2 separate regions of the Homo sapiens genome follow, and region 2 is linked to region 1. Evidence: fine-mapped expression QTL. A gene starts in region 1. The other region holds a variant in brackets. All regions are shown on one strand. Distances are between the middles of the regions.

What was found.
Region 2: its variant is fine-mapped to the expression of NCAPH2 in whole blood (TOPMed, PIP 0.97).

The regions. Positions count from the first base shown.
Region 1 is chr22:50,506,422-50,510,799 of GRCh38, reverse strand. It overlaps NCAPH2 (non-SMC condensin II complex subunit H2), which reads right to left and starts at 2,576. Exons shown (of 20, transcript NM_152299.4): 1 at 2,355-2,576. The coding sequence starts at 2,462. LMF2 (lipase maturation factor 2) reads left to right here and starts at 3,098. Exons shown (of 14, transcript NM_033200.3): 1 at 3,098-3,218; 2 at 3,765-4,018; 3 at 4,134-4,162; 4 at 4,298-4,378. The coding sequence starts at 3,125. RefSeq lists silencers at 2,038-2,327, 2,998-3,097 and an enhancer at 3,318-3,367.
Region 2 is chr22:50,606,807-50,611,184 of GRCh38, reverse strand. It overlaps MAPK8IP2 (mitogen-activated protein kinase 8 interacting protein 2), which reads right to left. Exons shown (of 12, transcript NM_012324.6): 10 at 4,194-4,264; 11 at 875-973; 12 at 1-478. The coding sequence ends at 406. Among named protein-coding and RNA genes, the nearest start is that of MAPK8IP2, 8.2 kb to the right of the region's middle. RefSeq lists an enhancer at 1,174-1,958. The variant G/A (reference allele first, on the strand shown) is at 1,824.

The DNA of each region.
Region 1 (4,378 bases):
GAGGACTATTTTAGATAGGGTGGTCAGCTGACATTTACACTAAGACCTTAAGAATGAAAAGGACTCAGTCAGCCAGGCGTGGTGGCTCACGTCTGTAATCCCAGCACTTTGGAAAGAGGCAGAGCTGGCTGGATCACCTGAGGTCAGGAGTTTGAGACCAGCCTGGCCAATGTGGCGAAACCCATCTCTACTAAAAATACAAAAATTAACTGGACGTGGTGGTGCATGCCTGTAATCCCAGCTACTCGGGAGGCCAAGGCAGGAGAATTGCTTGAACCTGGGAGTCGGAGGTTGCAGTGAGCCAAGATTCTGCCATTGTACTCCAGCCCGGGCAACAGAGCAAGACTCCATCTCAAAAAAAGAAAAGAAAACAAACTCAGTCATTGAAAGAATATTCCCAGCCAGGTGTGGTGGTGCACAGCTATAGTCCCAGCTACCTGAGAAGCTGAGGCAGGAGGACTGCTTGAGCACAGCAGTTTGAGACCAGCCTGGGCAACACAGTAAGATCCTCCTCTCTGATTTTTTTTTTCTCCTTTTCCTTGCCATATGAAGTCCCTCTTTATTTAAAAACAAAAAAGAGGCCGGGCGCGGTGGCTCACGCCTGTAATCCCAGCACTTTGGGAGGCCAAGGCAGGCGGATCACGAGGTCAGGAGATCGAGACCATCCTGGCTAACACGGTGAAACCCTGTCTCTACTAAAATACAAAAAAATTAGTTGGGCGTGGAGGCGGGCGCCTGTAGTCCCAGCTACTGCAGAGGCTGAGGCAGAATGATGTGAACCCAGGAGGCGGAGCTTGCAGTGAGCTCAGATCGCGCCACTGCACTTCCGTCTCAGAGTGAGACTCCGTCTCAAAATATATAAATAAATAAATAAAAACAAAAAAGAAGATTCCCAAGTGGGGGCAGAAAGCATGAAGATCTTCCACCAAGAAAAAGCTTGGAGGGGCCATAGGTTGACTGGTTCAAAAGAACAAGATACAAAACAGCCCAAAATGAGGCTAAAATGGAGAGCAGAGCCAGGTTCAGAGAAGGAAATTTGGGTTTTATTCTGGGCATAATGGAAAGCCACTGAGGGGTTGATTTTAGGCAGAAAACAGTGCTGTGGCCAGATTTTAATTTTTAAGAGTCACACTTGCTGCTGGTTGGAGCACGAATTGGACGGGACAAAAACAGGGATAAGGGAACCCAAATAGGAAGGTTTTACACAAATCCAGGCCAGAGACAATGGTGGCCTAGACCAAATAAAATGGACAACAGATGAATTCAAGTGATATTCCGGTGGTATAACTGATGGAATTCATGGATGAACTGAGTGTTAAGCATGGGGCTTCACTATAGCCACATTTAGCTTTTGCTTTTGGTTGAACAGCGGTGTCATTTTCCGAGATGGGAAAAGCTGGGGTTTAAGCAGAAAAATGAAGAGTTCCACTTTAAATATGTTAAATGAGATGTTTGCGTGACACCCACTAGATGTCAAGAGAGCAGCTGGATATGTAAAGTAGATTTGGAGGAAAGATCTAGGATGGAGCTGCAGATCTGGTAGTTGTCCTAATACAGGCAATATTTAAAATCATAGAAATAAATGACACTTCAGGGTAAATGCATCAGAAGATGACCTAGGCCCCATCCTGAGGAACTCAACACTTAGAGACTGGATAGAAAAGAAAAATCAGGCAATGAAATAGGGAAAAAAAATCCTACCACCATGTTTCAAAAAGAAAGGAGTGGCCAGTCCAACAAATGCTGACTTATGTCCCTTGGATTTGGTAGAATGGAGATCACTGCTGATCAAGACAAGAAACATTTAAGTGTCGTGGACGCCAGACTGAGCTGGGCTGAGGAGTAAAAATGAAGCGCAAATATGGAGCAGACAGCTTAACACAGGTCTAGACAGGGCTGTCAAACATGGAAGAAACACTAATCGCTAACAGGATAGAGCATGGCAATAGCTTGAAATTGGTTTGAAAATCCAAGATAAAAAATTCCTCTGACATCGTGATCCAGACCTCTCAAACACACAAGCATGCTCGCAATAACTGCAATAAAAGCAATAATGCTTTCTAGTCTATTCCACTACGTTAGAGAAACGGCTGGTCACCACCCACTCAATCATTCACGGCTCGCTGACGGGTAGAAACCTGCAATGACAGGTCCACGCTAATCCAACAAGGGATGATTTGGGGAGGCAGAGATGGAGTTTGAAAAGAAGCAGGGAGCCCGAGGACCTGCGCGGCCAGAGCGCCAGATAGCCATAGGCGTGGAGACGGTGGGGCGCCCACAGCCCCGGGCCCGGAGCCCCCGCCCCGCAGCCCCACCCGCCGGCCCACCCCGCGTCACTCCCCCGCCGCCCTTACCTCCTCCAGATACTCGCCCAGCTGGGCCGCCACGTCCACCTCCCAGTTCTTGGTGAGGTCGCGGATGGGCTGCAAGAGGTGGGCGAAGCGCGCCTCCACGTCCTCCATGTCCGGGAGGGAACGGGCGGCAAAGGGACCGCAGGGCTGCCTTCCGAGGGGTACGGCGTCCTCAGCCCGCCACTAGTTCTGGCGCCATTTTGCTGTTCCCGCCCAGGAAAATGCGTAGGCGCGGCGTCGCGCGCATGTCTATGACGTAACGTGGGCAAAAGCCAGAGAGGCGAACCCCGGCGCCGCGCAGCGGGAGCTCACCGGAAGAGTCGCGGGGCGGGGTCGAAGCCTCCGGGAGGGGGGGGTGGGCGGAGCTTTGGGCTGCCACCAGTTTGGACGGGAGGGCTTTTGGGGCCGCCGTGGGTCGGGCGGGGCGGGGTGGGGCGGGGCCTGGAGCTGCCGCGGGCGAGCGGGCCGAGGAGGCGGGGCTTGGGGGCTGCCACGGGTTGGGGGGGCGGGGCGGTGAGGAGGCGGGGCCTGGGGCAGCCGCGGGCGGGCGGACGGGCCGAGGAGGCGGGGCTTGGGGCTGCCACGGGTTGGGCGGGCGGGGCGGTGAGGAGGCGGGGCCTGGGACTGCCGCGGGCGGGCGGGCGGGCCGAGGAGGCGGGGCTTGGGGCTGCCACGGATTGGGCGGGCGGGGCGGTGAGGAGGCGGGGCCTGGGGCTGCCGCGGGCGGGCGGACGCGGAGGGCGGGCCCTGCTCTAGCGGGCCGCGTAGCGGACATGGCGGGCTCCCGGCTCCCGCGGCAGCTCTTCCTCCAGGGCGTGGCGGCCGTCTTCATGTTTGCTTTCGCTTCCCTCTACACGCAAATCCCAGGTGAAGGCACCCAGGGTGGGACACCCCCAGCCTCGGCGCGGGACCCTATGTCCTCTTTTCTCTGTGCCCGGCACTCACGCAGTCCGGGGTTGGGAGTGAGGGCCAGGCCTTGGCGTGGGGTAGGGGGCGGCGGTTCGTGTCCTGCAGGCCGCTGTGGGGGTAGGAAGGTGTGCGGTGATCCATTTCCCGTAAGGCTCTGGACTCTGACCTGGGGTGGGGGACAGAACTCTGAGAGAGGTGGGAGAGAGGCTTCCTCCCAGACCTGGTGGGACAGGTAGGAGATCGGGCTGAGACCTGGAAGAGGGCAGTGGGCTCTGCTGGGTGGGAGGCCCTGACTCAGGTAGTTGAGCAGGCCTCTAGCCCTGGGACGGGGTTTTGACAGGTCCCGACCTGGGGGACGGGCTCTGGAGGGACTGCAGACTCTGACCTAGGGATGGAGGTATCCGCATGCTCTGACCTAGGCTGGGGGATCTGCAGGCCCTGACTCAGAGGTAGTCTAGTCTGCAAGGGCTGTCCAGGGCCTGGCCATGACATGCCCTCCCACAGGCCTGTATGGCCCCGAGGGCATCCTACCTGCAAGGAGGACGCTGCGGCCTCAGGGCAAGGGGCGCTGGCAGCAGCTGTGGGAGACCCCGACGCTGCTGTGGGAAGCGCCGAGACTGGGGCTGGACACGGCCCAGGGCCTGGAGCTGCTGAGCCTGCTGGGTGCACTAGTGGCCCTGGGAGCCCTGCTGCTGAGCCCACTGCGCCACCCTGTCATCTACTTGCTGCTTTGGGCCGCCTACCTGTCAGCCTGCCAGGCAAGTGGGACCTGTGACCAGCTCACTCTATCTCCAACCCCCACCACCCACCCCTGCCTCTACCTTACCTGAGTCCACAGACACACCCGCTCCCTGACAGCCCCTCTCTCCGCAGGTGGGCCAGGTGTTCCTTTATTTCCAGTGGTGAGTGACGGCTGGGCCTGGGGCTGTGGGAGGCTGGGTAGGGGGTGGGGGAGGGCTCTGCCCTTCCTGGGAGGACTTTCCGAGGGAAGCAGCTGTGTGGGGAGGGGCTCTTGGTGCTATTTGCTCTCCCCATAGGGACTCCCTGCTGCTAGAGACTGGCTTCCTGGCCGTGCTGGTGGCCCCGCTGAGGCCAGCCTCCCACCGCAAGGAGGCCCC
Region 2 (4,378 bases), 100 kb before region 1:
GGCATCACTTGGAAGCCGACATTACCTGTCCCTAGAGCCGCACCTCCTCCACACCCCCGAAGTTCTGACCCCAAAGTGAAGAATAGAGGATAAGGTTTGCAGGCACAGAGAGGGGCAGAGACACCAGGAGAGAGAAAAGGGAGACTGGGAAGGGAAGGAGGAGGACAACACAGAGAAAGAACGGATCTGAGGAAAAGCAGGGGCACGGGGGCTCCACTCCCCCGCAGCCCCAACAGCTGCGCCCTGGGGACCGAGGACGAGAGTTCCCAGCCCGCAGACCCCCACAAGCGTAAGGTCCCATGTCCCCCCAATCCAGTCCTTGCCAAAGCCATGGTGGCCTCTTGAGACATCCTCAGCCCCAGCTGCGCCTGGAGCAGACGGCCAGGAGACAGAGCGGTGGGCAGGCTACTCCAGGTAGATGTCCTCCGTGGGGCAGGCGTACGCCAGGTGCTCTTGGTAGTACTCCAGGAAGGCGCGGCTGGGGAAAGACGGTCCTCCACCAGCCACTCAGGGCCGGTCCTCAACCCCCAAACTGCCTTCCACAGAGCCTCTGAGCTCTCCCTCCTTCCTCCCTCTGCAGCCATCCATAACCCCCCACCCAGGCATGGCCATGTCACCCCCAAGTGTGACCCTCAGCTCTCCTGGCCCAGCAATTCTACCCCTGCCAGAGTGCCTGGGCCATGTGTCTGTGCCTGTTCCCACCCCATGCCCAGCACCCCAAACTGTCACCCACCACTGCCCTCTCTACACAGCACATCTGGTTCTCCTTCCCCAGACCTCCCCTGCCAGGCTCCTGCCCCCACCTGCTCACCTCCGCTCCCCACCTCCGTAACCCTGCACCCATTCTGCACCCACACCCTGGGGCCCCACTCACCCCACACTCTGCGCCACCGGCCTCATGGACTCCTGGGAGACAAAGACGTGGCAGGCGAAGCGGCTCAGCAGGGGGTGTTTGGTGATGAAGCCGAAATAGCTGCGGGCAAGTCAGTGTGGAGGGCACGTCAGAGCCCTGGCCCAGCCTTGGCCACCCCACAAATGATGTAGAGAGAAGAGGCAGGAACAAAGGGCTTGGGGAGAGGGTAAGGGACAGGAGTGTGGGGGTCGCACAATTTCAAGATCTGAAGTTGTCTTTTTTTGGTTTCAGCCCAAGCACAGGGCTGGGCACCTACCAAGAGTTCACGCTCTGAGTTAATTCCATGATGACCAGGGGCGTCCACTCTCCCTTCTCTGAGCCGGTGCTGCTACCCTCTGTGGCCCTATTCAGGGCCTGCCCCAGGACCACAGAGCAAGGCCTCTGCCTGGCTACTGGAGACCATATCTCCTGCCAACTCAGGCCTCCTCCTGCGGGCCTAGCAGACTGACAGCCCCTTGCCCAGCTCCGAGGTGGGGCTGGACGTTACCCCTGGTCTGTAAAACCCTCTTCCGGTCTACCCCTCGCTCCCACTGGAAAGCAGCTCCTTGCGGGGCCTCGCTCATGGAGTCACTGCCCAGCTCCTCCACCCAGACATTAGCAAAAATCAAAAATCGTCGTCCAGAGGGAGAGGCAGGCAGAGTTCTGCAGCAGGACGCTGCCCCACCCCCACCCCTGAAACTGGCCGACCCGTCCATTCCCCCATGGCTTCGGGGCTTTGCGATTCCACCAAATGGGAAGCCACATGATGGTCTGCTTGCCAGGACAGTGTGTGCACGCTGTCCACAGACAGAGCACAGGGCCCGCCTCAAATGCCGCGTTCAAGTCATGATGGTAATAAGCGCCGACCCACAGATCTGGCTTCCTGCATTACTCAGGCACCATCCTCTGCCCTTTCCATTAACTCACAGAA[G/A]CCTCACAACAGCCCTCTGAGGTAGGGCCCTGATGGAGAGCTAGGCACAGAGGTTCAGGAGCTTGCCCAGGACACACAGGCAGGATGGGCAGCCCTGGGAGAAAAGGCTACAGTCTGTGATCCCAACACCAGACATCCTAATGCCAGATCCCAACACAGCACACCCCACGCTCTCCTGACCTACCACCACCGCCATGAAGAAACGAGTTCATCGTTCACCTCACACGGTTTCGTCCGTGCCTCCTCGTGGCAAGGGACCGGGGACGGGGGGTCTGGGGTGACAAATATTAGGAAGGTCTGGGCCAGGGCAGCAGCTCCTCCACCTCCTCCCACACCCCTGCCACATCTTGACTCCAAACCCCAAACTCGACTGACCACCTTCCTCTCACGAAATTCTAGCTGGGGCCCTGTCCAGCCTGAGACCTGAGCTTCACCCAGTTTCCTTCTGATGAGAAATTTGGGTCATTCTTCCTCTCCTGGCAGCGTCCGCTGTCCCAGTGACCCCAGAGCTGTCCCCACTGTCTGGTCTGCGCCCCGTCCGCTGTCCCAGTGACCCCAGAGCTGGCCCCACCGTCTGGTCTGCGCCCCGTCCGCTGTCCCGGTGACCCCAGAGCTGGCCCCACTGTCTGGTCTGCGCCCGTGCCCACTGTCCCACCTCTCCACCCCAGAGCTGTCCCTGCTGTCTGGTCTGCGCCCCTGCCCGCTGTCCCACCTCTCCACCCCAGAGCTGTCCCTGCTGTCTGGTCTGCGCCCCGTTCGCTGTCCCGGTGACCCCAGAGCTGGCCCCACTGTCTGGTCTGCGCCCCTGCCCACTGTCCCACCTCTCCACCCCAGAGCTGGCCCCGCTGTCTGGTCTGCGCCCCTGCCCGCTGTCCCACCTCTCCACCCCAGAGCTGTCCCTGCTGTCTGGTCTGCGCCCCGTTCGCTGTCCTGGTGACCCCAGAGCTGGCCCCACTGTCTGGTCTGCGCCCCTGCCCACTGTCCCACCTTTCCACCCCAGAGCTGGCCCCGCTGTCTGGTCTGCGCCCCTGCCCGCTGTCCCACCTCTCCACCCCAGAGCTGGCCCCGCAGTCTGGTCTGCATCGCTGCCCGCTGTCCCACCTCTCCACCCCACTGAGCAGCGTTTCCGCATGGATCCCATCAGACCATCTCTGCACTCGGCGGGGACAACACAAAAGGGCTCCGCACCTTCCAGCAGGCAGCACCCTCACTCTCGACCACAGGGAGAGTCCACAAGGCCCCCAAGATGCACTGACGTCTGTCCCACGCCTCAGTCCTGGCAGCACCGTGCCCTGCTGTGTCTTGCCTGTCTGTGAGCCTGCTTCCTCCAACTCCCCGCAAGTCCTTTCCAGCCTCTGGCTGGCTCTGCCTCTCTGGTTCCTCCCAGATCTCCTTCCTCTAGGGTGCTGGGACACAGAGGGCAGGGGCCTGTGCCTGGAGGGAAGCTGGCAGCCCCCCTTGGCCTGCTGCTCCTATGCCAGCACCTCCTCCTCCCCTCCTCCCCTCACCCTGCCTGGCCATTCCCCTCTCGTCTCAGTGATCTACCTGCTCTGACCTGGTATCTTCCCTCCAGGTCTCCCTCCTAAACTCCAGACCCATGGGACCAACGGCCACTTCAGTCTCACCGTTTGTGATTGATCCCGCATCCCCTCTCGGTGTGTGGGCTGCAGTACAACCATCCCCCAGGGAGACGTCACCCTGGTCTCTTCCAGGTCACCCTCTACAGCCGGTCAACCTAGGTCCTGCCTGTACTGCCTCTTCAGTGCCTCTTGCATCTGCACACTTGGTCTCAGGACATAGCACCTGTATAACCTCAGCAGCCCCCAGGTCCCCTGTGTCACCTCCTTCCATTAGGAGCCTTCTATGGCCTCATTACCAGCAAGATTAAGTACAGCTCCTTGGCATAATCAAAAGGGTCCAGGTCTTCCCCGGCATTTCTAGCTGCTCCCCTTACACGCGGGCCCCAGAGCCTATATAGCCCCCGACCAGTGCATCCCACACCCTTGGCTCAGCTAGACCCCACCAGGAAGATCCACTTCCCCACCGCTGTCACCTGCTGTGTTTCCAGGCTGGCCATCCTGAGCCCCAGGCCCACTCAGGCGTCCTCTGCACCCACACAGGCTTCTCACATCCTTCGCCCGTGTGCCTCTCTCCACCCAGACTGGATGCAAGCCTGTCTGACCCACGCCTCCTGAGTCCAGCTCAGAGCAGGCGCCACTGCAGGCTCAGCTCACAGAGCTAAGTGGGTGCAGGTGGAGCTCTCAGGGCTGGGCACGGGCAGCCCTCAGGGTCTGTGGGGACTCAGGGGGCGGTTGGACTCTCAGGGTTTGTGGGGGCGGTTGGGGGACTCGGGGACGGTCAGACTCTCACCAGCTGTTGCGGGGATGGCAGCCGCAGAAGGAGATGTTCTTCATCTGGAAGAAATGGCTGCAGCGCTGGAACTAGAGCAGAGGTGGGCAGAAGTCCCTGTGTCAAAGGAGGCCTGGCGCCACCCCTGCCTCCCACCTACTGGACACCCCTGCCAGCCTGGCCCCGTCGGACTCCGTGGCCTAACC